Regions from separate parts of the Homo sapiens genome. Here all the other regions are linked to region 4. Evidence: fine-mapped expression QTL. A gene starts in region 4. Each other region holds a variant in brackets. All regions are shown on one strand. Distances are from middle to middle.

Region 1 (7,921 bases), 34 kb after region 4:
AGGTCAGGAGTTCGAGACCAGCCTGGCCAACATGGTGAACTCCCTTCTCCATTAAAAATACAAAAGTAGCTGGGCGTGGTGGTGCACGCCTCTAATCCCAGCTACTCAGGAGACTGAGGCAGGAGAATGACTTGAACCTGGGAGGCAGAAGTTGCAGTGAGCCAAGATCGTGCCACTGCACTCCAGCCTGGGCAATAGAGTGAGACTCCGTCTCAAAAAATAATAATAATAAAGTATAATTCCAAATAGCTTTACTAACTTCACAGAGCTCCCTTTTCTCTTGTTTTTATCTAGGATTCAAAAATACATTGGCTTGATTTCTGAAATTTCCTGTCTTTTTTTCCCTCCTCCACTTGTATCTAGACCTTCTGTTTCCTTCCTCTCTGTGACCCTCTCCTGAATAATTTTGATTCTTCCCCTAGCAGTTTCTCCTTGTCGTGGGTTGCTCTCCCAGGAGGGAACCATGGCTGGTCAGTTTTGAGAATTCACAGGATCTAGGCCGTTCCGTTCCCTTCTGAATTCATGGAGGACCCTTAGTTTAAAGTTAGAACGATTTTCTAAGTAGTTTAACCCCTGTTTTCTCCGTATCTTTATCTCTCATGCCACTTTCTTATGCAATTAAAACTACCAAGAAATCATTTTCATCTATCCCCCTGAAGTGCTCACTTTCAGAATCTCCTGTCCTCCTATGCAACATTGGCTGTTTTTTAAGCCTGCTACCCAGCTGTCATGTGGGAACACTCACTCAGTGCGCTCACATTGGAACTCCATTTCCAGGAACCTAAGTTTTCCTTTTTCATGTTTTTCTCTCTAGTGGCTTCCTGACAAAATGTGCAAAAGAGATAATTTTTTTGAGACCTTTCATGTCGGAAAAGATTTTTATTCCACCCTCACTTGTGGTTGTTAAAGTAGAGAATTTTGGTTCTCTACATAAGTCACAATTAGAAAAAAACTTAGAAATGAGGTGACAAACCTTAGGAAAGGATTAGAAATAAAAGGTTGGATATCATTTTGCGTTCACTTTTTTTTTTTTTTTAAGAGACAGCATCTCGCTCTGTCAACCAGGCTGGAGTACAGTGGTGTGATCACAGCTCACTGCAACCTCCGCCTCATGGGTTCGAGCAATTCTCTTGCCTCAGCCTCCCAAATAGCTGGGATTACAGGCACATACCACCATGGCCCAGCTAATTTTTGTATTTTTAGTAGAGACGGGGTTTCACCATGTTGGCCAGGCTGGTCTTGAACTCCTGATCTCAAGTGATCCACCTCCCTCGGCCTCCCAGAGTGCTGGGATTACAGGCGTGAGCCACTGCGCCTGGCCTGGGTTCGTATTTTGAAAGCATTCTTCACTAGAATGATGGCTTTCCTAAAATTGAATATGTGTTGGTTTTGCTCCTGACATTTTAAGTGTTTGTTTGTCGCCCCCGCCCCCAGCCATGGTTCTCTGAAAGATCCTGTGGATGTGCCTCACTGTGGATGTTTTTCATTTATCATTCATGGTTCTTGGTGGTCTCTTTGAATTTAGAAGCTCAGTTGTTTAGTTCTGAGTAGTATTTCAGAAAATATGTTTATAAAATAATTTCTTCATGATTTCTCCCTTCTCTCTTTCCAGAAGACCTACTTGATGTTGTTCTTCTTTGACCAAGTCTCTCATTTTCTTTTTCTTTTTTTTTTTTTTTTTTTTTTTTTTTTTTTTTCTGAGATGGAGTGTTACTCTGTCGCCCAGGCTGGGGTGCAGTGGCGCGATCTCGGCTCACTGCAAGCTCCGCCTCCCGGGTTCACGCCATTCTCCTACCTCAGCCGCTGGAACTACAGGCGCCCGCCACCACCGCCGGCTAATATTTTTGTATTTTTAGTAGAGACAGGGTTTCACCGTGTTAGCCAGGATGGTCTCGATCTCCTGACCTCGTGATCCGCCCACCTCGGCCTCCCAAAGTGCTGGGATTACAGGAGTGAGCCACCGCGCCCGGCCCAAGTCTCTCATTTTCTAATATTTTCTTTTATCTGTAAACAAGTTCTCTGAGAAGGAAATTCAAGGACAGAGACTTCATTCCAGCAAACAGCTAGCAAGCTGGTGAGACACAGCCTTTGGTGTAAAATGAAAATGTGTTCCAGAGAACAAAGGAAGGGAATTTGTCTTTTAGAGAAAGTTCCCACCCAGGTTCCCACTTAGGTCTGCTTATGCAAAATGCAGGATTGAAATTTACTTAGTTCTGGTTGGTTGATGTTTGCTTAGTTAGCTCTTATTAGTCAGGGCATGCAGACTTCTGATTGATCCATGTAGGTTACAGCCTATTGTTTGGTTCAGGTGGCATAAACTGGAAGCTATGAAAGTCCCAAAGTTAAGCAGATGTGCACATTTTCTGGGAACTCAGAGTAAATATGTGACCTGTAGTCAGCAAATGGTTGCTTGGTTTTAATTTGAATTTAGGCCCAGTTAGCTGCTCAGGACTCATCTTAAGAGGCTGGTTCTTTACGCCAGGCACGGTGGCTCACACCTGTAATCCCAGCACTTTGGGAGGCCGAGGCTGGCGGATCTCTTGAGGTCAGGCATTCGAGACCAATCTGGCCAACATGGTGAAACCCCATCTCTGCTAAAAATACAAAAATTAGCCAGGCATGGTGGCATGTGCTTGTAATCCCAGCTACTTGGGAGGCTGAGGCAGGAGAATTACCTGAACCTGGGAGGTGGAGGTTGCAGTGAGCCAAGATCGCGCCAGTGCACTCGAGCCTGGGTGACAGAGCAAGACTCAGTCTCAAAAAAAAAAACAGAGAGAGAGAGAGACTGGCTCTTTCAAGGCTCACATATTTATCTTTTCATCTTTTTGTTCTAATTTTGGGGAGTTTTTTTTTAAATTTATTTTCCAATTCATCTATTGAAGTTTTCTTTTGGGACTTAGTTTTTAATTCTAAGAGGTCTTTTATGTGCTTCCTGTTCAATTTTAATGATGTTCTATCCATGTTTTAAATATACAGTATTTTTGTTACTTCTGAAAGTAATAATTATAGGTAGTTTCTTTTTTAAAGTTTTCTTCAACGTTCTTCATTATCTCTGTTTCCCCTGAGTGCTATTTTTTGTTTGTTTGAGTCTCTGTCTTTCTTGTTGGAGTGTTTTTCAATGTATCGTGATATTTTAAATTATGTTCGTTTTGAGTAAGACCTTAAACATTTGAAAGCTTTGTGTGAAGTGTCTGTGTTTCCTTCCAGAGTGGTTGTACAGTGAGCTCCCTTTTTGTGGAGAACACTCAAACAATTCTATCTGGAGGTATTTTCTCTGAGATTCTTCAGCTTCCTCAGAGAGACCCAACAATTCGGGCTGGCTACATAATTTACAAGGCCCAGTGCAAAATGAAAATGTGAGGTCTCCTGTTGAAAAGTCAGAAAAAAAGTTCAGTTAGAAATATTAAAATAGGTCCAGCGCGGTGGCTCAAGTCTATAATCCCAACACTTTGGGAGACCAAGGTGGGTGGTCTGAGGTCAGGAGTTTGAGACCAGCCTGGCCAACATGGTGAAACCCCGTCTTTACTAAAAATACAAAAATTAGCCGGGCATGGTGGCAGGCACCTGTAATCCCACCTACTTGGGAGGCTGAGGCAGGAGAATCACTTGAACTCGGGAGGCAGAGGTTGCAGTGAGCCGAGATGGCACCACTGCACTCCAGCCTGGGCGACAGAGCGAGACTCCATCTCAAAAAAAAAAAAAAAGAAATAGTAAAATATAAATCTTTTTCTTCTAAAAAGTCTTATTATTTATAACATGTAATGAGGTAACGGGTACACATATATAACAGCATAAACTACAAACAGCAAAGAAATAATGTTTTGGTGTCCTAATTTTATGTAAAACAATAAACCATAATACTTTAATAATGTATTAAATTGATTGACAAATCTTTCTGGCTTTTTTTCCGCAAGCTCATTTATTAAGTCATGAAAATTTATATTTTTGCCAACTTCATTTTCAATCTAGGTAATTGAAAGTGATGTCAATCATTCTTGGCAAATGCAAGATCTCAAATGATTTGTTATAATTTTTAGTCTGAAGAAGAAAACCAGGTGGAAAGAATAACATGAACAAAGGCAAAGAGATGGGAAAGAGGGAAGTAGTAAAACAGAACGGACAAGTCAGTGCGGGAAAATTTACATTAAGACAGTGAGGTGGCTCCTGCCTATAATCCCAGCACTTTGGGAGGCCAAGGTGGGAGGATCTGTCGAGCCCAGGCATTCAAGACCAGCCTGGACAACATGGCAAACCCCAACTCTACAAAAAAATACACAGATTAGCCAGGCATAGTGGCGTGTGCCTGTAGTCCCAGATATTTGGTAGGCTGAGGTGGGAGGATCACTTGAGCCTGGGAGGTTGAGGCTGCAGTGAGCTGTGATCATGTCACTGCACTCTGGCCTGGGTGACAAAACGAGACCCTGTCAAAAAAAAAAAAAAAA[G/AG]AGAGAGAGTCGTAAATACCAAGCACAAAACTATAAGAAATGACAAAGGTAGGGCACAGGAGCTATAAGTGGAAGAGAAAAGGGGAGCAACATGAGATGTAGAAAATTTCTTAGAAAGCAACTGTCTGAAACTCGATCAGACTCATCAGACTGAGGTTGTCAGTATTGAATGTAACCAAGAGGGTATAGGGGAAAAAATAAAAGAAATGATGATTAGAGATGTGCAGTGATGTCTGAGAGGTTAATTTCAGTAAAATAGTGGGACCACAATTCAGAAATAAGAGGTGAAAAGTACAAGAAGCAATGCAGAAAAGTGCTATGGAAATGGACAGCCAATAGAAGGAATGCAGAAATATGAGCAATCTACAGACAGAAAGTGAATATAGAGACCACAGTCTAGACCCTTCACTTTACAGATGTGGAAACTGAGGCCCGAGGAGGTGACCAATTCCTTTACTTAACCTGGTTAGCAATGGAACTTAGACAGAAAACCAGTACAGATGAAATGGTAATTCAGGAAGGATAAGGATCAAAGGAACACTTTCTGTCTCCAAAGAAGATTCCCTTTAATGCCTCAGTTTTCCTTTAGGACCTCCCCTCCTTCTTCTGATACTATGATACTTCATTGCTGAAGAAAATGCAATGCTGATTTGAGCAAGGGAAAGAGAAATCTGTCTATCATACTTTTTTATTCTTATAGGTATTATGCATTCCTGAAGCCTGGAAGACAGGAAGAGTTACTCATACTAAATTTGAAATGCATCACTATAATAATCCTGATAATACTCCACCCTGTCCAACTCCAGAGATAACAAATAACCCCACAATAACTATCCACCTACAGAAATGGACACAGTATGGTAAAGCCATTCATTAAAAAAAAAAAAAAATCACCCCATTATGGATAATTCACAATGAGCTGGCAAACATCATTTGGCTATGAGCAAAGCTCATCAAGAAACACCCTAATAATGTGTATATAAAGGCAAACCAAGCTGTTTGAGTAGGCCGTTCACCATCAGAGCATCACCGCAGAAACAAAGGCTCCAGCCTCCGGACACCATGTCTGTGCGCTTTTCTTCTACCTCCAGGAGACTTGGCTCTTGCGGGGGCACTGGCTCTGTGAGGCTCTCTAGTGGGGGAGCAGGCTTTGGGGCTGGAAACACATGCGGTGTGCCAGGCATTGGAAGTGGCTTCTCTTGTGCTTTTGGGGGCAGCTCATCTGCAGGAGGCTATGGCGGAGGTCTGGGCGGGGGAAGTGCTTCCTGTGCTGCCTTCACAGGGAATGAGCACGGCCTCCTCTCTGGCAATGAGAAGGTGACCATGCAGAACCTCAACGACCGCTTGGCCTCCTACCTGGAGAATGTTCGAGCCCTAGAGGAGGCCAACGCTGACTTGGAGCAGAAGATCAAGGGGTGGTATGAGAAATTTGGACCTGGTTCTTGCCGTGGCCTTGATCATGATTACAGCAGATATTTCCCAATTATTGACGAACTTAAGAACCAGGTAAGAAACGCCATGGCGTGAGTGTTAGCACTCCTGAGAGTGTTTAGCCACTCACAGATGCACAAATGTATAAGCTATCACAATAACAGGGCTTTGCCCTCAGCTTCTAAATTTTAGGAGTTCATTTTCAATATTAAAAATAATTTCTAATAAATTCTAATATTTGAACATGGCACGTCCATCATGTAGTATTAGGTATATGCTTTTGGTAATATTAAAATATCAAAAGCTGTCCAGTGTCTCCAGTTATATATTTATAGGCTTTCCCATAGAAAGAGCTTTTTTTAATGCTTGGGGTGGGAAATACAAGAGACCATACCCAGCCAGGCACAGTGGTTCAGCCTGTAATCCCAGCACTTTGGGAGGCCAAGGCAGGTGGATCACTTGAGATTAGGGGTTCAAGACCAGCCTGGCCAACATGGTGAAACCCTGTTTCTACTAAAACTACAAAAGTTAGCCGAGCGTGGTGGCACATGCCTGTAATCCCAGCTACTTGGGAGGCTGAGGCAGGAGAATCACTTGAATCTGGGAGGTGGAGGTTGCAGTGAGCCAAGATCGTGCCACTGCACTCCAGCCTGGGCAACAGAGCGAGACTCGGTCTCAAAATAAAAGACAGAGAGAGAGACCATACTTAAATTACCCATCTTCAAAAGAATGGTCTGATTATTAGAGACAGATGCCAGAAATATTACTATAATTTCATGGGTAATTTTATTTCAAGGAACTTTGAAATGCATCTTAAATATTTCCTCAATCTTAACTAACTTTTCATTTGTCAGATAATTTCTGCAACTACCAGTAATGCCCATGTTGTCCTGCAAAATGATAATGCAAGACTAACAGCTGATGACTTCAGACTAAAGTAAGTAGAGCTGAAGATAAATGGGAAAAAAAAGTTGTCTAAGCATTTTTTCTCCTTTATTCTTCTAAGTTATTTGACGTTGTCTCAAGCCTTTGTTCTTGTTTATTCATGTATTTGTTTTAAACAAAATGCCTGTTAGAATGAGTAACTAGCTGAGCAACAAATTTTACTTGGGAAATTTCGGGACTAACAAAAACGAGTGTCAAAGTCATATGAGAAAGAATTTTGGCTATTCCCATTCTCTTGCTTCAATGAAATGTATTTATTGCATGATAGATGACCTAACTGAAATGTGTTTTTTTAATTAATTAATTTATTTATTTATTTATTTATTTTTTGGAGACGGAGTCTCGCTCTGTCGCCCAGGCTGGAGTGCAGTGGCGCAATCTCGGCTCACTGCAAGCTCCGCCTCCTAGGTTCACGCCATTCTCCCGCCTCAGCCTCCCGAGTAGCTGGGACTACAGGCGCCCACCACTGCGCCCGGCTAATTTTTTGTATTTTTTAATAGAGACGGGGTTTCACCGTGATCTCGATCTCCTGACCTCGTGATCCGCCCGCCTCTGCCTCCCAAAGTGCTGGGATTACAGGCGTGAGCCACCGCGCCCGGCCTGAAGTTTTAAGTATTATCTTAGTAGTTTTACCTCAAAGCTTAGTCTGAGTTGTATGATGATCTAAAAAGTGATGTGCCATGTCTAATGACTAATGATGAAACTTCCAAATACTTTTCTAAGGTTTGAAAACGAGCTAGCGCTTCACCAGAGCGTGGAGGCGGACATCAATGGTTTGCGAAGAGTCCTGGATGAGCTGACCTTGTGCAGAACGGACCTGGAGATCCAGCTGGAAACTCTCAGTGAGGAGCTCGCTTACCTCAAGAAGAATCATGAGGAGGTAGAAGCTCCACCCGGCTGGCTCTCACAATCGCCTCCCTACCAAATTTTAAAACTAATTTCAGATGATAAATATAATGTCTTAAATTAACATTCAAGAAGGAACCTGTCAGTTTCTCCATAAGGCTTAGATTGTTTGAGACGCTTCTATTCATTCTTCTCAAAAGAAACAAACCTCCCAAAAAGTTTCTAACCCTATAGATCTTGTCCATCTGACTCCTTTA
Region 2 (7,921 bases), 28 kb before region 4:
GTTGTTTGCATTTTACTGAGATATTTGTTGAATTCAATATTTCCAGAAAACCCTCAAGATACTTGTCACTCTATAGGGACACAAAATTTTCTTATCTAATATGTACAATCTTTAACTTGACAATTTCACAAGGCATATTGATATAAATCATATTGCTCAATATCTGGTGACTCAGTAGAAAGTGATCTTCAGTTTCAACAAGCAGTCTTTTAATTCATGACGCTTTTTCTTAAGGAAATTAACCTGAGGACTTTTTCCCATACATCTAAAGAGTACTAGAAGTTGCTTTCAAAACATAGAGTAACTTGGTTTCCATGTAGTATTTATAAGAAAAAAAAATCTGTAGATATTCACTTATAAAGGCAAGCTTGGAATCCTCTAATTCGTCATTAAAGTGTGCTTTGTATGTAGGCAATCGCCTAACCATAGATACAAAACTGAGTTATCTTAAAATGGCTGATGGAACACTGGCTTTCCATGAAAATATTCAGTCTGAAAATGTAATACTCCTGCCAATCTAGATCAAAATAGAACTTGTTCTCCCTTAATAACGAGGTGTTCTATCTAAAAAACATTGTGCTCTCTCTCTTTGGTGGTCTAGCAGTTAGGAATAAAAATTAAAAATAAGTAAAATACACTTTTCTCTCAATCAAACTAATATTTACTGGTCACTATGGAAGCAAATGGGAGCGGACTAGTCAGGTATGCAAATAACCTTGCCTCGCCAGGTATAAAGTGACCTGCCACAGAAGTTTGGAAAAGGGAGGTAATATAAAGGGCTGGGATATGAGGACCACTCTTTACAGCAGAAAGGCATCTGAGCAGAGCCTTGAGGAGTACATAAAATTTCAACATATGGTATTAAATGGGAGTGGATTGGCAAGAATAGGACCAAAGAGCGTGTCCTCTGGAGTGTTTTCCCATAAAACTAAGTAATCATCACACCAGCTGAGAACCATAAGTTCCTTGACCCAGGTAGTCTGCACTTCCTTTTTAGAAGACGAATTTTTGTATCTTATTCCTCCTCAAAGGCTGGGCCAGGTATTATTGGCCATCCAGAAATAAGTCCCCAGTACTTAATGCAGCATCTGGCAGAAAATGTGGGCATGCCAAATACATGTAGGTTGAAATGATGTTTAGAAATATCACATTAGGTTTATACATTCATAACACATGATTGAAAAATTCCGGTAAACGGATTAGCTAAAATCCAATGAAAATTATTAATTAAGCCTTTCATTTGGCACAATTAAAAATAAAACCCTATGTTGATTGAATTTTTCATTTTGGATCCAATTATGCTGTCACATAGGTATAGCTGGAGTATATGAGTCACCCAAAATTCTATTAATCAAATCTAGAAATAATAATATAATAATGTGTGTTAATCATTCTAATACAGCAAATGAGACACAGAAAAACAAAACCAACAATATTGTAAATTACCCAATGATCAATCTTTGTTGGAAACAATGTCCTACTCAGCAGTGGGACAAGAGCAATACCTAAGAGTTGAACAACCCAGAAGAAAAAATATGAATCGTCAGGGAAAGTCTGCTTAGAGGGAAATAAGAATCCAAGGTGTATTGCTAGATTTTGCAATAACTAGATGTGGCAATACAGAAATGTGATTTTAATTGGAGGAGGAAGATAATTATAGCTTGCAAGCCAACTAGTTAATCTAAGTGACAAACTTTGGCCCCACACCCAAGAAAAGAGGGTGAACCCAAAATAGGAGTTTATCAAGTTTCCATTACAAATGTGTTCAAGACACCTGAGCCACCCTGAAACCAAACCCTGAAACCAAGGAGTGGTGAGGGGGGGGGGGGGGTTATAGGTTACTAATAATTAATTATTAAATTTAAATAGTTTCTATAAATTTACATATGAAAACAATAAATTCTGTGTTATATCTTTGGAAGTAGCATTATGCTGGTGATCAAGTGCAATGGGATAAAACACAGTTAGCAGGCATTCCTTAAAAAATATTCCCTAAGCTAATACTAGAAACAGAAAAAGAGAGGTCAGATTAATCCTACAGATTTAGAAGTGATCCAAGTTAAGGCAACCTACATGATAATGGAATTGAAAACCACGTCATCTAAGGAACAGTTGAATGAACTGGTGATCCATAACCTGGAAAATAAAAGACTTAGAAACACAGAGTAATCTTGTCAAATACCCAAAAGATTCTCCATCAGCAAAGCTATATTCTGTGTGGCAGATTTCAGTTAAATAGAAAGATAAGCTTTTTAATAATTAGAGCACTTCAAAGGAAGGTGAAGTGCTTCATGAGACAATGAGTTTCTCATCACTAGAAATATTTTAGTAGAGATTGGAGATATCTGATAAGGGGTTCCGTTTAGTGTTGAATATTTAACAAGAGAAGAAAGAAAGGACAGATGTCTATGAGTACCCACTGTGTAGAACACTTTGTAGAAGAACACTTTGTATGTGTTATCTAAATTGGTATTCTCAGATTTATGAATTGGATATTATTTCTCACGTGAAGATTAAAAGAGATTAAGCAATTTACCATACACCCTGTAACAGGCAATGCTGGAAGGTGAAGCCTGGCAATGACCTCTAATATCCTTTGCAAATTCTGTTCTGGTTGAAGCTATAACAGTGAATGTATTATTGGTCTAGATAATTCTATCCTGATAATTTGTCTATTTATCCAGTCTGGTATTATTTCTGTCAGAATATCCACAGACTTTTGGCCAAAGAGCATATTTAGCTTCCCCCATGACATTAAATTCAAAAGATAAATCATACTTTAGGTTCTTTCCAGCTGAATTCTGTAATTTTGATGACCAGAATTCCTAGCAACTCATTTACACTAGAAAGGGCAGAGTTTTGGGGCCGGGTACGGTGGCTCACGCCTGTAATCCCAGCACTTTGGGAGGCTGAGGCAGGCAGATCACAAGGTCAAGAGATTGAGACCATCCTGGCCAATATGGTGAAACCCCATCTCTACTAAAAATACAAAAATTAGCTGGGCGTGGTGGCACATGCCTGTAGTCCCAGCTACTTGGGAGGCTGAGGCAGGAGAATTGCTTGAACCCGGGAGACAGAGGTTACAGTGAGCTGAGATTGCACCACTGCACTCCAGCCTGGGCGACAGAGCGAGACTCCATCTCAAAAAAAAAAAAAAACAAAGAAAGAAAGGGCAGAGTTTTTATTCACATGGCTCAATTCAGGCAATTGGTTGTGGGCTTCCTGGATTAATTTTATTAAGAATAATTCTCCAGCCAGTCTGGGTTCAGCAGGAAGATGTGTTATCAATTAGTAATGTCTGACATGAGTACAGGAGAGTGGCAGCAAGAATGACTTGTGTTTGTTCTCTCTAAGCTCCACATTTCCTAAAACTATTTTTCTATTTGTAATCATCAGCTTTT[T/G]AGTGAATACGGTGAGTAAATTATTCTACCAACTAACTGTTAAAAGTAATACTTACTGCCATTTTTCCTAACACCACTCATGGAGGGTACAGGAATATATCATGAAGCAAATGAAAAGCTGCCCACAAGACTAGATTGATTATCAAAAGGGTTTTTTAAAATACAAATTTAATATAAATTTGAATTACTTCAAAAAACTTACCACAGTCCAGAATCTGTTCCTCATAGCCCTGCAGGTCCAGAAACTAGACTTCACCATGCCCAGAGGTAACCTGACACTTGATGATAGACTTACAGTGACTGTATTCACACAATGCTGATGTGCACATTAGAATGCCAGTTTACTGGCAATGAAGGACATATCTTTCCAGCTGTCTAAGGCCAACTTCCTGAGCACTCACTTTCCTGCACATTCGCCACAATGATGCTTCTAAAATGCAGAATTTTTTCAGTCATTTTTAATTATACCACATGCCTGTTCTTTATGCTAAGTTCCCTATGATACAGTTTAAATGGCTCATTCAACAGATGGTTTCCTATATTACTGATGTGAGCTCTTGAACTGTGTCTTGAACCACTCTTATTTCTGATTTCTCTCTCCTTCCAGGTACCTACCTGTGCTATCTGGCTTATTGGCTCCCTGAGTGTTCTCTTTCTCTCTCTTTTTTTTTTTTTTTTTTTTTTTTGAGATGGAGTTTTGTTCTTGTTGCCCAGGCTGGAGTGCAATGGCATGATCTTGGCTCACTGCAACCTCCACCTCCCGGGTTCAAGCGATTCTCCTGCCTCAGCCTCCCAAGTAGCTGGGATTACAGGCATGTGCCACCACGCCCAGCTAATTTTGTATTTTTACAAGAGACAGGGTTTCTCCATGTTGGCCAGGCTGGTCTTGAACTCCCAACCCCAAGTGATCCGCCCACCTCGGCCTCCCAAAGTGTTGGAATTACAGGCATGAGCCACCGCGCCTGGCCCTCTTTTTCTTTATTTCCCAGAGGAAACATTTCTGAAATACCTCTAAAGAGCTATAAAATTCTACTTGCTTCTGTTTCCCAGTATGTTCTGCACCCAACCATCTTGTCTTCATTCCACCCTTGCTTAGCTCCACACCATTCTTTTTTCTTTTATACTCACTGTGTGTGCTGCAGCAGTGCAAGACACAGATGGCTTCATTCCATCACCACCCTTTCCTTCCCTAATGGCAGACAGTCTGGCTTCTGTGCCCCTACATTGTCCAGTATATTCTTGCACCCAGATCTCCAAGGATCTTGTGGCACTATCATGCACATTAATTTCTAGTCCTCATTCTTCCTGGTCTCTATGCAGAATTTGAAACTCAAGACCCGGAAGAACCTCCTTCTGGAAACTCTACCAGGTGAATCATAATATGCTACAATCCATCCTTGGTTGCCTGAATTTTTTTCCAGACTTCCAGATCACTCCTTATTCACTTCCTTCACTGGGTACTTTTCCTCTGTGCCAAGCCTAACTGAGGGTTTCCTCACCATTCAGCCTTAAACTTCTGCTCTCCCCTTTATAAAATCCAGTTATTCTAAAGGCTTCAACTACCACCTCAATATAGGTAATTTCTGGCCTTCAGCTCTTTCCTAAATTATTTCAATTTCAGTGATCCTTTAATTTGCAAAATTGGTCATATTAAATGATGCTTAAACTATAAAGACTGAGAATGTGTATTAACTGTAATTGGTAGCTTTGAGAGAATTCATTCCCTGTTCTCAAAAGACAACAGTACTTCTAGGATCTTTTCAGAACAAACAGCTAGATTGTAAAGTAATGTTGCAGTTCTAGTCATACTTGACATCTTTAACACTGTTGGCCATCCCATCTTCTCAAAATTCTCCTCTCCACTGGCTCTCTTGAAACTTCTGTCCCCTGGTTCTCCCTTTTATCTTTCAATGTTATCTCTCAAGCCTTTTATATTCTCATTAAATATTGCAGCTCCTCAAGGTTTTATCCATGGTCCTCATCTCTACTCATTCTCCCTGAGAAATCTCATGTAGTTCATGGTTTCTCTTTGCCAGTAACTTCCAAATCACAATTTCTCTCCTAATCTCAGACCCACACTGCAGCTGCCTATGGAATATCTACATCTGAATGTTGATAGGTACCTCAGGCTCAATCTTCCTTTCCCTAAATTTGTTATCTTTCCTACAAAAACTGCTCCCCCTTTGCATTCACATATCAGTCAATAGCATTCCCCGAAGTTCAAAACTAGAAACGTCTTGTCATCTTAGATGCCCTCCATCATCAACGGGCAAACAGCCAAGTCAAATGCCACCTTATCTATGACTATCTTCCCATTCTTATCACTGCACTGACACTTTTGTGAAATTTTCATTGTTTCTTCCCCTCCCCAGACTCTTGCAAATTCTCCCATCTCATCTCCCTTTGTCCAGTTTCCCCCCAATCCATCTAGTACACTGTCAACAAAGTTATCTTTCAAAAAATTAAGGTCATGTTCCTCCCCTATTTAGCAGCTTTCAACGGTCCACTCCATGACTAAGGGATCAAGTCCAAATTCCTTAAAATGGCATTACAGGTCTTTTCTTATGTAGCACAAACCTATTTTCCAGACTTATTTGTTGGCACTCACTCACATAAACTTTATGTCCCAGCTAAACCAAACTTTTCTCAGTTCTTGAAATACGTCGTGTGTGTTTATGTCTCCTTTATACTTGCTGGTCCCTCAGCCTAGATTTTTTTTTTCCCATACAATGAATTCTAAGTCATTCTTTAAGACATCATTCAAAAGACATCTCATTAAGTCCTCCAGAAACTGGTTTCTTTTTACTGGTGCTTCATATACTTTAGATAAATCTGTATTTCCAAACTCTTCATCCTATTTTGTAATTATTTGTGCCTTGTCTCCTACCCTTTGACCCAAAAGATATGACTTCCTTGAAGGTAAAGACCACATCTTACTTATCCTTGCATCCTCAGAACCCCAGTAAAATATATGGCATATGATATATATTCAGTGAACTGTACAAAAGATAGGACAATCAGAGCCAAGATACTGTCCCTTCCCTCCAGAAGGTGAGGAAAAGAGGCCTAGAGACAACAAAGTGCTTTTCCTGCTACAGTTAATTTTAAAGTCAAGTTGTATTAATTGGAAAAATACAGAAAAATATTTTCTTCAAAATTTTTACCACCACGGTGCCTGAAATTCCACTTAGATAAAAGGTGTTTTTTGTTTTTGGTGTGTGTGTGTGTGTGTGTGTGTGTGCACATGTGTGTTTGAGACAGAGTCTCACTCTGTTGCCAGGTTGGAGTGCAATAGCACAATCTCAGCTCACTGCAACCTCCGCCTCCTGCGTTCAAGTGATTCTCCTGCCTCAGCCTCCCGAGTAGCTGGGACTACTTTTAGTAGAGACGGGGTTTCACCATGTTGGCCAGGATGGTCTCGATCTCTTGACCTCATGATCCGCCCACCTTGGCCTCCCAAAGGTGTGTTTTTTAAAAAAATGTAAATAGCTTCAGTGAATACCTCTCCAACCCTACCCACCTTTGGCAGTCAGTCAGTAAGTCACACCTTAGACTGAATTAGACTCACCAGATGGTTATCCTCCTAATACCTATTCCCACACCAGGCTGAGAAGTCTCAGTATGTAAAGAGGAGAAAACAGACAAATGGAGCAAGTCAAAGGAGGACAAACTAAACTGGAATGTGGCTTTGGGGTACCAGGCAGCAACTTCAGAACACAGGATAGCTGGCAGGGGGTGGGAGAGTGGTGCGGCAGAGAGGAAGAGGGCAGCAAAACAATGACGGAAACCTCAGCAGGTACTGGTTCCTCTACTCCTCCCCAGAGATGGGGGAAACACCCTCTCTCACACTGAGCAAAAGCGGCCCCACCTTGGCACACAGGCTTGGTTCTTCAGGGAAAGAGCTCATCATCATAGTTACTTAACTCTGTTAACTCCTGTAACTTAACTACTCTTCCCACCCACTGCCCCCATAATCTTTCCTTTTATCTAATGAGGAGACAAGCAGGAGAGAAGTGAGCTTGTTTCTGTAGTTCCAATAGATAAGGCTGCCACAGATAACTAGATCTCCTCTTATTTTATTACCAGATCCCACCTGAGATATTCTCTTTCCTCCTACCTTACCTGCAGCAGTGAACAGGCAGCAGTGAACAGAGAGAAGGATTGGAAGAAAGTCCAGAAAGCTTCTGAACAGCTAACAATATGCATGCAGGAGTGTTTTCTGCTCTGTGAAGCCTGCACCAATACATGTTAAAGAAATTGAAGCAAAAGGCTGACCATGAGAATGTACAACCATCATTTCCGATTCAGTATCTGTACTTCTAAACCACTCTTTCTCCTGGCTTTCCTATTCTGACACTTTCTTGGTCTTGACCACCTCAATATCCAATCAGTAATCAAATAATAATTATTATTCTTTCAATCAGCTTATTTTTTCTGTGTCCATGATGACATATGTAGACACTAACATTCTCCTAACCGATTCCCTTGCTCCATCTCTCCCAAACCAATTAGTATACTTC
Region 3 (7,921 bases), 57 kb before region 4:
AAGGCATTTGTCCTTTGGGAGGCCAAGGCAGGAGGATCATTTGAGGTCAGGAGGTTGAGACCAGCTGGCCAATATGGTGAAACCCCATCTCTACTAAAGATACAAAAATAAGCTGGGCATGGTGGTGTGTGCCTGTAATCCCAGCTACTTGGGAGGTTGAGGCAGGAGAATCGCTTGAACCCAGGAGGCAGAGGTTGCAGTGAGCTGCGATCACATTACTGCACTCCAGCCTGGGCGACAGAGCAAGACTCCGTCCCAAAAAAAAAAAGAAAAAGAAAAGGCATTTGTCAGTTTGACCTGCATTTTATTAACCAAAGAGAGTCACATGACCCAGCCAGGTGTCAATGGATTAAAGGAATCTAATCCTGCAATTGAGAAATGCCACAGATCACATGGCCAGGTCTGATGAAGGAGTGAGAGGTATAACATCTTCACACAGTGGGGAAGCAAGTACTGAGAACAATGCTACAATGCGCCGCACTGAAAGAACAGTAGGTGCAAAGCTACAAGCAAAGAAAAACCCCAAGAGCTAATGATCCTAGCTGGCTGGCTGAGGTTGCCTAGTTGGGAAGAGTGGGAGATGGAGCTAGAAATATACACCATGCCCACAGTGATGAACTGCAGAGACCCTTCTCAAAGGAAATTAAAATTAACCCATCTCTTGAATCAAGTCCTCACATAAGAAGTGCCCTATTTTTCTTGTGCTCATAGAAAGAGTCTTTGGAGCACACTCTAGAGGAGACCAAGGCCCGTTACAGCAGCCAGTTAGCCAACCTCCAGTCGCTGTTGAGCTCTCTGGAGGCCCAACTGATGCAGATTCGGAGTAACATGGAACGCCAGAACAACGAATACCATATCCTTCTTGACATAAAGACTCGACTTGAACAGGAAATTGCTACTTACCGCCGCCTTCTGGAAGGAGAAGACGTAAAGTAAGGCTCTTAGAATCAAGGAATAGGTGTCAATATCTGTATGCACTTCTATTTTAATGTCCCTGTCACTCATTACCCAGCACCAATGCAATCCCTAGGACAGAAGCAATTATACTCACACATGCCTCACCACGAACAACAAAACGAAAATATACCAAAAAATACACACACGCCCAAAATATCAAGTACAGCCTTGAGATCATGTGGTAGGACTGAGTTCTACCACATGATCATTTGGAGATAATTCTCCAAATGATATAGATTATGCTGATATTAATTTTCATCATTAATATATAATTGAAGGCATAATAACCTTTTGGAAATTCTAATTGAGAGCTCATGAATTAGACAATAAGCTGCTGAGGTCCACGGGAGCCAGTCTGAGAATCATAAGTGTGGCAGCAGCAACTGTCTTCAGATACCATACCTAAGAATATCAACAAGAGAACACAAGATTTAAACTTCCATTGTAATTTTGTTATTTTAATTAGAGGAACTTCTTAGCATATATTAAACTGGTCAGTTTTAAATCTATGTATTTTTCAAGTTAAAAAGTAAAATGCTCAAGTTTGCAATAAAAGCAATGTAAAAGGGAAAGATATATGAAAGCAATAACACATTCACTTGGACTTTGAAATATAAAAGACAGGAGTGCATTCCATTTTCAAAACAGCAATAATGCTTTTTTCTGTTTCTTTTTTCTTCTTTTCATTAAAAAAAAAAACAGAACTACAGAATATCAGTTAAGCACCCTGGAAGAGAGAGGTAAGTTCTAAATTTTTGCACATTTTCTATGACATTCAGCTGCTTTCTATTAACTACATGCCACTGATAAAAAGTAAAGTGAGGCTGTTTTAGTCTGTTTTCTGCTGCTGTGACAGAATACCTGAGACTGGATAATTTACAAACAATAGACGTTTACTTGGCTCACAGTTCTGGAGGCCAGAAAGTCCAATATCAAGGTGCCGGCATCTTGTAAGGGCCTTCTTGCTGTGTCATCCCATGGCAGAAAGTAGAAGTGCAAAAGAGTGTCCATGAGAACCAGAGAGCAAGAGGAGGCTAATCTTTCTTTTAGAACTAGCCCACTCTCACAATAACTAACCCATTATCATGGTAACCACATTAATCCATCCATGAGAGAAGAGCCCTCATCATCTAATCACCTTTTACTAGGCCGCACCTCCCAACACTGTTACATTGGGGATTAAGTTTTCCACACATGAACTCCAGGGAACACATTCAAACCATAGCAAAGGCCAATTCTCAAGGGAGCAGATATGACACCAGGGATTCTAAAAATCTTGTACATGGCATAAAGAAACCCTCCACATGGGAACTTGGGCACACTCCTCAGAATGGGGTGATTTTCTTGGCCTGTGCTATTGCTATCTTGAAACATCCTGACATCCTGAAAAGGAAAAACAAGACAAAATTTGAATTCCACTTAAATTCAAGATAATTTATTTCTTGAATTTTTAAGAGTAGGACATTTGTAAATTTGGGGAGAAGCACATTTTCTGCATCTATTTATAAAATGGACTTAAGATTTTTTGAGAAAGAGGATGGGTTTAACATATTTTTCTAAAAGAAGGAAATAAGTAAAAAGAATAATAATTTAAAGTTGAATATTATAAATCAGCAGAGTCATGTGCCTGAATTAACATTTAATGTTTAATATGAATTCAGATATAAAGAAAACCAGGAAGATTAAGACAGTCGTGCAAGAAGTAGTGGATGGCAAGGTCGTGTCATCTGAAGTCAAAGAGGTGGAAGAAAATATCTAAATAGCTACCAGAAGGAGATGCTGCTGAGGTTTTGAAAGAAATTTGGCTATAATCTTATCTTTGCTCCCTGCAAGAAATCAGCCATAAGAAAGCACTATTAATACTCTGCAGTGATTAGAAGGGGTGGGGTGGCGGGAATCCTATTTATCAGACTCTGTAATTGAATATAAATGTTTTACTCAGAGGAGCTGCAAATTGCCTGCAAAAATGAAATCCAGTGAGCACTAGAATATTTAAAACATCATTACTGCCATCTTTATCATGAAGCACATCAATTACAAGCTGTAGACCACCTAATATCAATTTGTAGGTAATGTTCCTGAAAATTGCAATACATTTCAATTATACTAAACCTCACAAAGTAGAGGAATCCATGTAAATTGCAAATAAACCACTTTCTAATTTTTTCCTGTTTCTGAATTGTAAAACCCCCTTTGGGAGTCCCTGGTTTCTTATTGAGCCAATTTCTGGGTTAATCTTATTGATTTTTCAGCATCAGTACAACTCTACAACCTTTGAGCTATATCTGCTTTTTCCCATTGCTTCCACTGCCTTTTAAAACTCAACACAGCTTTTTGAATAATTTGAGAGTCAAATTCAATCACAAATGCTGAGCAGAATAAGAGTGAAGTACACTATACTTAAAATGGAAATAGATTAAAAACAACATTACTGAAACCCTTC[T/G]CAAGGCAAAATGTGTCTCCTTTTGATAATAAGCTGCATATACTATCAGGTCCTCTCTTTCTTTATATGGTGAACATATATTTTTAATGAAATGTCTCTCATTTTTTTAATAACAGATTTATTGAGATATAATTCACACACCATGAAATTCACCCTTACAAAACGTACAATTCAGTGGTCTTCAGTATGCTTACAATGTTTTGCAACCATCACCACTATCTAGTTTTAGAACACTTCATCACCCCAAAAGGAAATCTTGTACCTATTAGTAGTCACCGCCTTTTCCCTTCCTCCCAGCCCCTAACAACCACTAATCTACTTCCTGTCTCTACGGATTTGCCTACTCTGGACATTTCATATAAATAGGTTAATACGATGTGTCCTTTTATACACAAATGTTCATAGCAGCATTACTCATAAAAGCCCCAAAGCGAAACACCTCAAGTGTCCATCAACCGATGAATGGATAAACAAAATGTAATATATCCACACAATAGAATCTTATTCGTCAATAAAAAGGAATGAAGTACTGATACATGCTATAACAGAGATGAACTTCGAAAACATGCTAAGTGAAAGAAGCCAAATCCAAAAACAATAAAAACACATATTGTATCCTCACCCTTTTTGCATTTTAGTGAGCAATCATTGCATATGAATGTTTATGGGAAAAATCAATGTGTGCTAAATCATTGTATTCCAGTAAATAGATTGGACTTAAAACTTGATACAGAAGTTGCAAATAAGTGGGATTGAGTTTGATTATTATATAGAAAATAATTACATGATTCATTTAAGAATAATAATATCCACCATTTATTGAGCACTTACTATGAGCCTGTGTGCCAAACATTTCATGCATTTCTCATTTAATTCTCACAATAATCCTGTGAGGTAGAAGCTATTAGGTTGAATCATATGAACTTGCCAATATATGATAATTTCTAAGAGTTGGGAATTTTTGAGGATGTGAATGGTACCACTTTGAATTCCTAAGATGTAATATAATATCTAACACATAGCAGGCACTTGATTCATTATTTTAAATTGAAAGAATAAAGATTTTTTTAAAGCTTTCCAATATATGATAATTTCTGACTTTCAGAAATAGCAATTTTATATGCTATTATATAGCATATATAATAAGGTTCAACCTTATTATGTTACCCCCACTTTACATATGAGGATAAATGAGGACTCATATGAAGACATGAGATAAAGACTTTCCCAAAGTCAAGCAGTTACCAAGTAGTAGAGCGAGACTGAACCTCAGCGCTGTTTCTCTAAAACCAGGACACCCTCATAAGCAACTAATTACATAACAAAGCAATACATGATTCACAGTTGAAATAGGCACTTGCCTATCCGCAGTTATTTTGTTGTTTTCTAATTGTCATTTTCATCAGCCAGACACAACAGCCAATTGTGGCAAATGTCCAGCTTTGCTGGCTAACATCACACATGACTTGATTCAGTACAACTTTTGTCAGAAAAGGTATTCTCACCTATTCTCATTGCCTTCTTTTCCAAAGTGAAAAGATTTCACTCATTTTTTTCTTAATTTTCTTCCAAGTCACGCTAGCTAGTAAGTTGCATTTAAAGATGTTAAGAATATTTAAAAGTGAATTCTTTTTCACCTACTGAGACACATTCCAGAATAGTCTGAAACTTTGACATGCAAATACCAGACTGTGAATCTGATTAATAAGAAACCTATGCAGATGGGTTTGTAACTGATTAGGCCTGACCACTGTTATATGGCAATGATGACACTGTGTTAAAAGAGGTAGGATTGTTATTCTTAATTTAGGATGGTCCTCTTTTAACTACCTGTTAAAAGAAGTAGAATTGTTATTTTTAGATCAGAAAAATGAAGATTTTTTCTTCCTCTTGCTTCTTTGGTCTGTCTCTAGTTTCTTCCAAGCAATCTTTCAAAGAAGTGAGTGAGAGCTACATACATGTGGACCAGATGGTGGAGTTCTACCTCCAGTTCTGCCAGCAGTTACTGTGTGAAAGTGAAGCATTAATCTTTGTATCTATCTATATTTCTGATATGAGCTAAGAACTAGAATGACATAATCCTATTTCTGACAGGTAAACAGATCCAGAGAGAAGTCTTTATCACACATTAGAATTATCATCAATGTATTTTTTCATTTTATATGAAATTGTCAGTGCAGAAGTGAAGCTATCAAACTCAGAGAGAGCCCCTAGAGGTGAGGTTAGGATGGAAATAACTATTTTTTCTGAGCTCTGGAGATTATTTCTACCCAGAGTTCTGAATCATCTAAAAAGGAGAATGACATGGAGTGATACAAAATCAAAACATGGCCAGTGACCTCCTCAGACACTCTGTTCTCATCCACATGCATCAGGATCAGCCTCAGGTACCTGATTAGACCCCCAAGTAACAATTCCAACTTAAAGCATTAGTAGTGATTTTTATTTTTGAATTCTCTTTCAAACATCTCTGTTTTCTCTCCCCTAGGCTCATTTCCAAGATTCCTCTCATCAGGGTATTATTTTATCATCTTCCTGTCTCCTACCACTTTCAAAATTCTCCCCTGCTTTCAAGAACCATTGATCTCTGGAGCCCAGAAGTCAATCTCACTCATACCCCTTAGGGTCCTTGTTTAACCCTCATCTCAAAAGCACAATACATAAAATGTAGGCAACCCAAAATTCTCTCAGTCACTCACAGGATTTTATAATGTTATCCAAAGTGAAAGATGTTACAGATCAAGGGATCAGCGAGTTGCAGAAAATGACAGGTCTGTCTTACGGGAAAAAACTCAGGTAGAAAACCCTGCAAAGACCAGGACAGAAACCAACCTGACATGAAAAGATGAGGGTATGATTTACTCAATAAAAATCTAAAGACTTGTAAAAACCACATAACTAATTTTCTCTATTTTGAACATTTCCTAAACTCTACAAAAATGGAAGATATAATTCTTTTGAACAGTTTGCCCTGGCTATAATCATTTTCCTCTCTGCCTCAACTTATGCAATCACTCTGCCAACAAGCCCAAGATTGTTTATTGTTTTTTACATCACCACTGCCTTATACATTAATGTGGCTGTCAAAGAAAATTATTTTCACTTCTAAAACCTCTAAAGCAGAGTCTTGATTATTTAACTTAGCCTCCCACTTAAAAAAAAAAAAGCCACTGAAGAAGAAATATTTCCCTTTTCAACTTCTGAAGTTGCTCCCCATTCATAACTGAATTCAGAATAAATATTGGTCAAAGCATACCAGTAAATTAGGGCACAGTCATTTTCAAATGAAATGAATTTCAAATGACACATTCAAACACATTAAGACTTAACTTCTTTCAAATGAAATCATTCAAGGAGTGCAGTGATAAAGTTCAGCGAAACACTAGGCTAGGACTCAGGATAAAAAATAAATTAGATGTAGTACCTACCTAACAAGCTTAGTCTAGGATAATATGTTATATGTATAGAAACATAAACAAATAATATATAAACATAATTTTTAGAGATTGAGCAATATTATTTAAATTTTACCATAGGCATTAGAGTTGGAAAGTGTACCTTTCAGCACAAAATCAATTCCAAGTTCAAAAATTCAACTTAATCATATTCCCGTATTATGTGATCAAATCACTGAGGTACAATTTTGAACTTGGCACATTTCTTTTGACATTTTATTTGCTTCTGTTTTCATTTCTATGGCAGTAAAATGGAATCTCTCTGTCTTGGGGGACACTTGGGAGTGAATAATAGTTAACAACCATAACATCAAGTTCTTGTGTGGGGAGTGCAAGTTTAACTTGTGCTTTATAAGATCTCTGGAGATGTAGTTACAGGTCAAAGCTAAAATGAAAACCGCATTTGCCTGTGTGTTTACAGAATTTCATGTGTCATGTTGTTGCTTATAAGCCATGAAAAGTCATTCTCTAGGTCTCAGCCCATACACTGAGAAATTCAAGGAGAAAGCTTAAAAGAAAAGAAAAAAAAAAGAGCACCTCCTGTTAGATGTGCAGGGCAGAAGCCTAGTGTCAGGTGTCATAGCTAGGGGATGTCAGAGTATCCTCTGCCCTTTTTATTGTCACCGCCAGCAGCAAGGTTGTGGTATCTATAGAAGGCACTGCAGGCCCGAATCCTATCTCTGCCTCCTCCCAGCTGCATGGGCGTAAATAAATCACTTAACATCTGGACTCTCAGATTGCTCATCTGTAAAATAGGATAAAAGTACCACCTGAAGCTGGGCGCCTTGAGGTGGCTCATGCCCGTAATCCCAGTGCTTTGGGAGGCCAAGGCAGAAGGATCACTTGAGGCCTAAAGTTCAAGACCAGCTTACGCGATATAACAAGACTCCATCTCTACAAAAAAATTAAAAAAAAAAAAATAGCCAGTGTTGTGGTGCCCACCTGTAGTCCTAGCTACTTGGGAGGCTGAGGCAGGAGGATTGCTTAAGCTCAGGAGTTCAAGGTTTCAGAGAGCTATGATCACACCACTGCACTCCAGCCGGAGTGAGGGCAACCAAGCAAGACC
Region 4 (7,430 bases):
AAGTAACCATGCAGAATCTGAATGACCGCCTGGCTTCCTACTTGGACAAAGTTCGGGCTCTGGAAGAATCAAACTATGAGCTGGAAGGCAAAATCAAGGAGTGGTATGAAAAGCATGGCAACTCACATCAGGGGGAGCCTCGTGACTACAGCAAATACTACAAAACCATCGATGACCTTAAAAATCAGGTAAGAGGTATTTTTAAATCCAGCTTTAAGTATCTTGTCCATGTAATCCAGACAGATGAATCTTAAATTAAGCACAATGTGGCTGTTCACTATGCTTACCCATGTTACTTTCTTCCTTCAAAAATAACCCAGTCTCATCAAAGATAAACATCTGTGAAACTATGGTCATGGCAATCTTCATCCAGCAAGTGTGCTACTTGTCTTAAGAGGATGGGAGATTTACTAAGCACTTTTGAGGTTTTAATGAGCATACAATGAGTCCACAGTTAAAATATGCTAGGCTATTTACAAATGTAGAAACTGAAAAAAAAAATCATGATATGAATCAGAACAAAATGTTATTCAGACTGATAACAAGCCATATTCAGTACCAACATGGCAAGAAAAATAAATTTTCCAGTATGAAAATGGGACACTGCTTGCCTCTAAGGAATTTCTGAATTGTACCTATTGTGTACCAGTTCAGAGTGTATTTATTTATTAGTATTTATCATGAGTTAAACAAATGCAGGTGTGAGTCAGCCAAAGCATGGCTGAAATACATGGAAATCACATAGTCTAAAAGAGGAGGGCACACTTACAGGAATACATCTATATAATTCCAGTTAGTTTTCAGAAAGGAATAATTCGTGTACAGAAATACAAGACTGGAGAAATTCCAAGAGAACAAATAATTCAAAGTTAAGTATATGGGTAAGCCTGCAATATTTCATATTTAAAATAAAAAATTTTCCCAAGATTTTGTAAGAGAACAACATAAAAGTGCAGAGTGCATCTATGTCACTACAAAAGCCATATCTGCATCTGACCTCTTCTCAAATAACTGTGCCTCTCCCTCCAGATTCTCAACCTAACAACTGATAATGCCAACATCCTGCTTCAGATCGACAATGCCAGGCTGGCAGCTGATGACTTCAGGCTGAAGTAAGTTAAGTGATCGTTGTATAATACTATCACAACGAATACATCAGTGGTTTTTAACAATGACTTGGGATGCCCTCAATAACATTTACATTTTTCTGAATTCACCCAAAGTTAAATAGTATTGGAGTTATCTGAGAAATTTTCCATGTCAGTGTTACCTTTTTGGCAATATTAAAGGAAGAAAATGCATTTTAAAGTAACTGCTAAGGTTTTTTCCATTAAACCACTATTACTTCTAAGAGAACTGTACATGACAAATATTGCCATTACATGAGATCAACTATGTAGCTGCTTTTTAAATAGTCTCTGCCCAGATACATCTCCCCTATATAAGTTATAACCAGTATTGATATCATGCTTGTTTCAGGTATGAGAATGAGGTAGCTCTGCGCCAGAGCGTGGAGGCTGACATCAACGGCCTGCGTAGGGTGCTGGATGAGCTGACCCTGACCAAGGCTGACCTGGAGATGCAAATTGAGAGCCTGACTGAAGAGCTGGCCTATCTGAAGAAGAACCACGAGGAGGTGACACAAAAGTTATACTTTTCCCAGCCAAAAGAGAGTTCATTATGGTCCTCGTGTAGCCAATAAATCTTTCTGTTCCTCAAACAGGAAATGAAAGACCTTCGAAATGTGTCCACTGGTGATGTGAATGTGGAAATGAATGCTGCCCCGGGTGTTGATCTGACTCAACTTCTGAATAACATGAGAAGCCAATATGAACAACTTGCTGAACAAAACCGCAAAGATGCTGAAGCCTGGTTCAATGAAAAGGTAAAGTAATCTTCCTTATAGTGAAACTCATGGAGGTTTTATCATTTCAGAATTTCCTCACCCTTTTCCTTGTTTTTAATACTCTAGAGCAAGGAACTGACTACAGAAATTGATAATAACATTGAACAGATATCCAGCTATAAATCTGAGATTACTGAATTGAGACGTAATGTACAAGCTCTGGAGATAGAACTACAGTCCCAACTGGCCTTGGTATGTTAACTCTCATGAAATGACTTCAACTTTATCATACAAAGTTTCATGCTCACCTAAGAATATGCAATGCAACAAAAAAATGCAGAGTTGGAGGTAAGAAAGAGAAAACAAAGTGAAGCTCATGTTAATGGAGGAAAAGTACTACTAGTGTTGATCTAAAAGTGCTGAAACTGAAATGGTGCCATTAAACATACAACAAATTCTGTTCATTTTCTTATTCTTCTATATAATGCCTTACTAAATAATCAAATAAGCGTCACCATACTCAACTGAACAAGGAAGTCACTAAGCCACAAAAAAATCCGTTTCAGAAACAATCCCTGGAAGCCTCCTTGGCAGAAACAGAAGGTCGCTACTGTGTGCAGCTCTCACAGATTCAGGCCCAGATATCCGCTCTGGAAGAACAGTTGCAACAGATTCGAGCTGAAACCGAGTGCCAGAATACTGAATACCAACAACTCCTGGATATTAAGATCCGACTGGAGAATGAAATTCAAACCTACCGCAGCCTGCTAGAAGGAGAGGGAAGGTAAATTTTAAAATGAAAAGTTATCCCAGTTTCTTTTATTCAATATTCCAGATAGCAAGGCTTATCTAAACCCCAAGAAGATGCCAGAGAATGAGAGGAAGGGAGGAGAGAGGGTAGAGTACAGAAAAAGGAGTACGCAACCGCAATCTCACTTTCTCATGAATTTGGCCCAAAATGATTCTTAAGAGTTCTGTGAACTTAACATTGTTTTCAAAGGATGGGTTTTAAAATATATACCTGGCAGGGTTTTATTTTTTCAACACGTTTTGCTTATTTTCTAAATTAACGGCAACTGGAAAGCTACCCACCGTTTTCCAACGTTAGAGATAACCGAATGTGACCTCACCCCGTTTAGTTCCGGAGGCGGCGGACGCGGCGGCGGAAGTTTCGGCGGCGGCTACGGCGGCGGAAGCTCCGGCGGCGGAAGCTCCGGCGGCGGCCACGGCGGCGGCCACGGCGGCAGTTCCGGCGGCGGCTACGGAGGCGGAAGCTCCGGCGGCGGAAGCTCCGGCGGCGGCTACGGGGGCGGAAGCTCCAGCGGCGGCCACGGCGGCAGTTCCAGCGGCGGCTACGGTGGTGGCAGTTCCGGCGGCGGCGGCGGCGGCTACGGGGGCGGCAGCTCCGGCGGCGGCAGCAGCTCCGGCGGCGGATACGGCGGCGGCAGCTCCAGCGGAGGCCACAAGTCCTCCTCTTCCGGGTCCGTGGGCGAGTCTTCATCTAAGGGACCAAGGTCAGCAGAAACTAGCTGGGGTAATCAGAATTAGTTTTAACTTCCTGTGATGGTTTTTTTGCGCTTTAAGCTCTAGAGTTGTTTTAAAAAATTAAAAATCTTAGAGACGGTTCCGTTTGCATTTGTTCACAAACTACTCTTAACACCAGCCGTGAAAAATGGCATGATCAAAATGTCATACCTTAAGCATTTTTTTGGGCTTAACAATGTAAAGTTGAAATTTCCTTCTTTTTACAATATTTGCTTGTTAATTACTAAGGATCCCTACAGACTGTTTAAAATTTTTTTTCCATCATTCACACAGATACTAACAAAACCAGAGTAATCAAGACAATTATTGAAGAGGTGGCGCCCGACGGTAGAGTTCTTTCATCTATGGTTGAATCAGAAACCAAGAAACACTACTATTAAACTGCATCAAGAGGAAAGAGTCTCCCTTCACACAGACCATTATTTACAGATGCATGGAAAACAAAGTCTCCAAGAAAACACTTCTGTCTTGATGGTCTATGGAAATAGACCTTGAAAATAAGGTGTCTACAAGGTGTTTTGTGGTTTCTGTATTTCTTCTTTTCACTTTACCAGAAAGTGTTCTTTAATGGAAAGAAAAACAACTTTCTGTTCTCATTTACTAATGAATTTCAATAAACTTTCTTACTGATGCAAACTATCCCAATTTGTCAGAATTTATCTTTACTTAAGTACATAATACTCTTTAAAATTAAAGATTAGTAACCCATAGCAGTTGAAGGTTGATGTATCCAGAAATTCGGAAGACAGAACTATTGTCATGCCTTTTCTAAGTTTTTTAATCATGTATGTTCAGACCACCGTCAGTAAATTCACTGAGTAAAGTCTGTAAATCCCCAATATTACTCTTTAAGATACACAATATGTGGAAGGCTCCCAGCTCTCTGGCTTTAAATTATTTCAATCCTGGAAATTCTGGAATATCTCAAATAAAACCCCCAAAATAATAATAATTGGAAATTTTATATTTTCTAATTACCTGACTTCTCACCTTTGCCTTTTCTTACTTTCTTCCAGTTACTATATTACTTCTTCCCAATTGTTATATAGCTTGACATATCTTCTGACACCACCCAAGTAAAATCATATCACCCCCAACAAAATTATTTGATGTCCATCAGATGAACGTGAGAAACGCTGTCAGGAAGTAGTGATGCCAGTGTAACCAAAAGGACACCACTAGGTCTCTGCCTTCCCCAACTGTGCCCAGTGATCAGGACTAAAGACCTTGTACTTTCATAGCCCAGTCACATCCCTCAGCCAATAAGAACCCAACCAACATTACTTAGTACTCTACTGGGGATCCTATGAAGGGAATAAGCTGGCGTGTCCCTTAGACTACCTTGTGTCCTCTGATGAGTTCTTGGATTACTCATGTCCACCAAGTAGCAGCTTTCCTCAGTATCCTTGATTTGAGCTCCAGATCTGAGCCCTGATCCCCATGCCATTTGTTGGCACTCCACTCTGTAGACACTACCCTCTGTACCCCAAATTGATGACAGGAGCCTTGTTTCAATGGGATGGATTTCCCTATAGTCAAGGCTTCATAACCTGCTTAGCACCAAATATTAGCACAGCCCAGAGGCTCTCCATTTTCGTTCCTGTGCCTCTAAATGCCTAAATGTCTAAATGCTCACATGCCTCTGGATATTTGTACCAGCTAACCTTGGGAGCCAGTCTTCTCAGATCCACTATTGAAGTCCCAACACGCCTCACTGCGTAGAGCCCTGAAACACTGTGAAGTCCTTACGTCGCTGTATAAGGACTCTGAACTCCTACTGTGTAAATAGTGCTATACTGCCTGCTGTTCAGAAACACCATCTTTTAAAATATGTATTATAAGGTTAACCAAATCCCCGGGACCTATTGTACTTATAATCTGAGGTTACCATTCACCTTATTCTGAAGAAATAGATTTTTTATATTCAATACCACTGATACGAGGCAAGTACACATATGTTACTATGAGATAGCAGTGCTTGCTGTTAAGTTTGTCTCTTCTACCCATTCTGCCCTCCTCCCCCAGGCCACAATCTTAGCAGTCAGAGTCCTCTATGTGGTTGGATGGTGACCCAAACTTTCATTCCTGAAAAGTCTGCATACATCGTGGTCCTGTCTTCTTACCATTTCAATCTTGCAATACCTCCTTAAACAATTATTTATATTCTCTCTGATAAAGTAAATACTTTATCTCAGATAAACAGCTGCTTTCTTGATTGGACTTGGATAACTATGGTTTGTTTTTGCTTTTTTTTTTTTTTTTTTAATGAGACAAAGTCTCACTGTGTTGCCCATGCTAGTCTTGAACTGGGCTCAAGCAATCCTCCCACCTCAGTCTCTGAGTAGCTGGGATTATAGGCACATGCCGCAGTGCCCAACACTATGGTTTAATAAAGATAATCTGTCTAAATAAGCCACTTGTCTTTAATAAGGACATTGGTATTTATAGTAAAAAAAATTACAGAATTATTTTTAAAAATTATTAAATAGCACAGGGCACTATTTTTACCAAATAAATTTGCATGTACCTATTAATCAAAAAATTCTGTATGCATTCTTACAGATTCTAAAGTCATTACAGAATCCTGCTATTTAAGCAGGGTAGTGCCTAATTAGATTGGCAGAGCCAATTCGGCACCCATGTCAAAAAATATTACACGATAAAATCCTGTTTCCCCAAAGATGTTCTCTTATGATGCTAAAGGCCTAAAAGCTTTGCACCCTAATCTTGGTGCCCATGATGGCTTGATATTTTGCTTGGGAGTGAAGAAATAGCTTTGTTAGGGTCATCTTTATCAGGGAAGTAACTCGATTAAGGTTAAATAGGATGCATCTAATATTTCTCATCTATATTGCATTTTGAGAATGGGAATTAGGGAAAGAGCTTATTCATGGTTTATGAGCATGCAACTGAAACACAGTGATCCCTGGACTTCCTATCCTGGCACTGGCATTTACAAATTATGTACCTTTGGACAAGTTACTTCAACCCTTCTGAGTCTGTTTACTTACCTATACAATAAGGGATAGCTACCTTATATGAGGTAGTTGTGGTTAAACTAAGCTTGACAATGAAAATAATGATAATAATAGCCTTTAAATCACACCGGGCATTGTTCTGAGTAAATGATGGATGGATAGATAGGTAGGTAGGTGGGTAAATGTGTGGATGGATAGATAGATAGATTAGATAGATAGATAGATAGATAGATAGATAGATAGATACAGATAGGTAGGTAGACTCAGTACATATAACATGTATATGAACTCATTTAAGCTTAGCTACTACCCTACAGTTTATTTTCAACACAGAACCATAGTTATCCTTTTAAAATGTAAGTCTAATATATTAGATCAAATTGTAAGTCTAATTATATTTGATCAAAATTCTTTGATGTCTCTCCATTTCTCTTTTGATGTTACCTTGGTTAATATTCTTTAACAAGATGGTCTTCCTTACCTCCTTCAAGCCTTTGCACAGTTGTCACTTTTTCTTTGAGACCCACTCTGATTTTCCGCTTAAAATTTTACCTGCCAATCTCCCAACTCCCCTATCTGCTCCACTTTTTTTATTATTATTATACTTTAAGTTCTAGGGTACATGTGCAGAATGTGCAGGTTTGTTACGTAGTTATACGTGTGCCATGTTGGTTGGCTGCGCCCATTAACTCGTCATTTACATTAGGTATTTCCCCTAATTCTATCCCTCCCCCAGCCCTCTACCCCACAACAGGTGTGTGATGTTCCCCACCCTGTGTCCATGTGTTCTCATTGTTCAACTCCCACCTATGAGTGAGAACATGTGGTATTTGGTTTTATGTCCTCGTGATAGTTTGCTCAGAATGATGGTTTCCAGCTTCATCCATATCCCTGAAAAGGACATGAACTCATCCTTTTTTATGGCTGCATAGTATTCCCTGGTGTATATGTGCCACAGTTTCTTAATCCAGTCTATCATTGCTGGACATTTAGGTTGGTTCCAAGACTTTGCTATTGTGAATAGTGCCACAATAAACATACGTGTGCATATGTCTTTATAG

Evidence for each region.
Region 1: its variant is fine-mapped to the expression of KRT10-AS1 in naive CD8 T cells (Schmiedel 2018, PIP 0.95).
Region 2: its variant is fine-mapped to the expression of KRT10-AS1 in whole blood (TOPMed, PIP 0.92).
Region 3: its variant is fine-mapped to the expression of KRT10-AS1 in whole blood (TOPMed, PIP above 0.99).

Annotation. Positions count from the first base shown.
Region 1 is chr17:40,780,077-40,787,997 of GRCh38, reverse strand. KRT27 (keratin 27) reads left to right here and starts at 5,448. Exons shown (of 8, transcript NM_181537.4): 1 at 5,448-5,948; 2 at 6,728-6,810; 3 at 7,542-7,698. The coding sequence starts at 5,505. The variant G/AG (reference allele first, on the strand shown) is at 4,443.
Region 2 is chr17:40,842,732-40,850,652 of GRCh38, reverse strand. No RefSeq gene overlaps it. Among named protein-coding and RNA genes, the nearest start is that of KRT12, 21 kb to the left of the region's middle. The variant T/G (reference allele first, on the strand shown) is at 3,402.
Region 3 is chr17:40,871,156-40,879,076 of GRCh38, reverse strand. KRT20 (keratin 20) reads left to right here. Exons shown (of 8, transcript NM_019010.3): 6 at 712-932; 7 at 1,660-1,697; 8 at 2,619-3,188. The coding sequence ends at 2,716. The region is part of intron 1 of LOC105371777 (a long non-coding RNA gene); the gene reads right to left. Among named protein-coding and RNA genes, the nearest start is that of KRT12, 7.9 kb to the right of the region's middle. The variant T/G (reference allele first, on the strand shown) is at 3,401.
Region 4 is chr17:40,814,717-40,822,146 of GRCh38, reverse strand. KRT10-AS1 (KRT10 antisense RNA 1) reads right to left here and starts at 3,002. Exons shown (of 3, transcript NR_160888.1): 1 at 2,939-3,002. It overlaps KRT10 (keratin 10), which reads left to right. Exons shown (of 8, transcript NM_000421.5): 1 at 1-188; 2 at 1,030-1,112; 3 at 1,480-1,636; 4 at 1,724-1,885; 5 at 1,973-2,098; 6 at 2,413-2,630; 7 at 2,986-3,360; 8 at 3,665-4,030. The coding sequence ends at 3,671. RefSeq lists an enhancer at 1,293-2,492.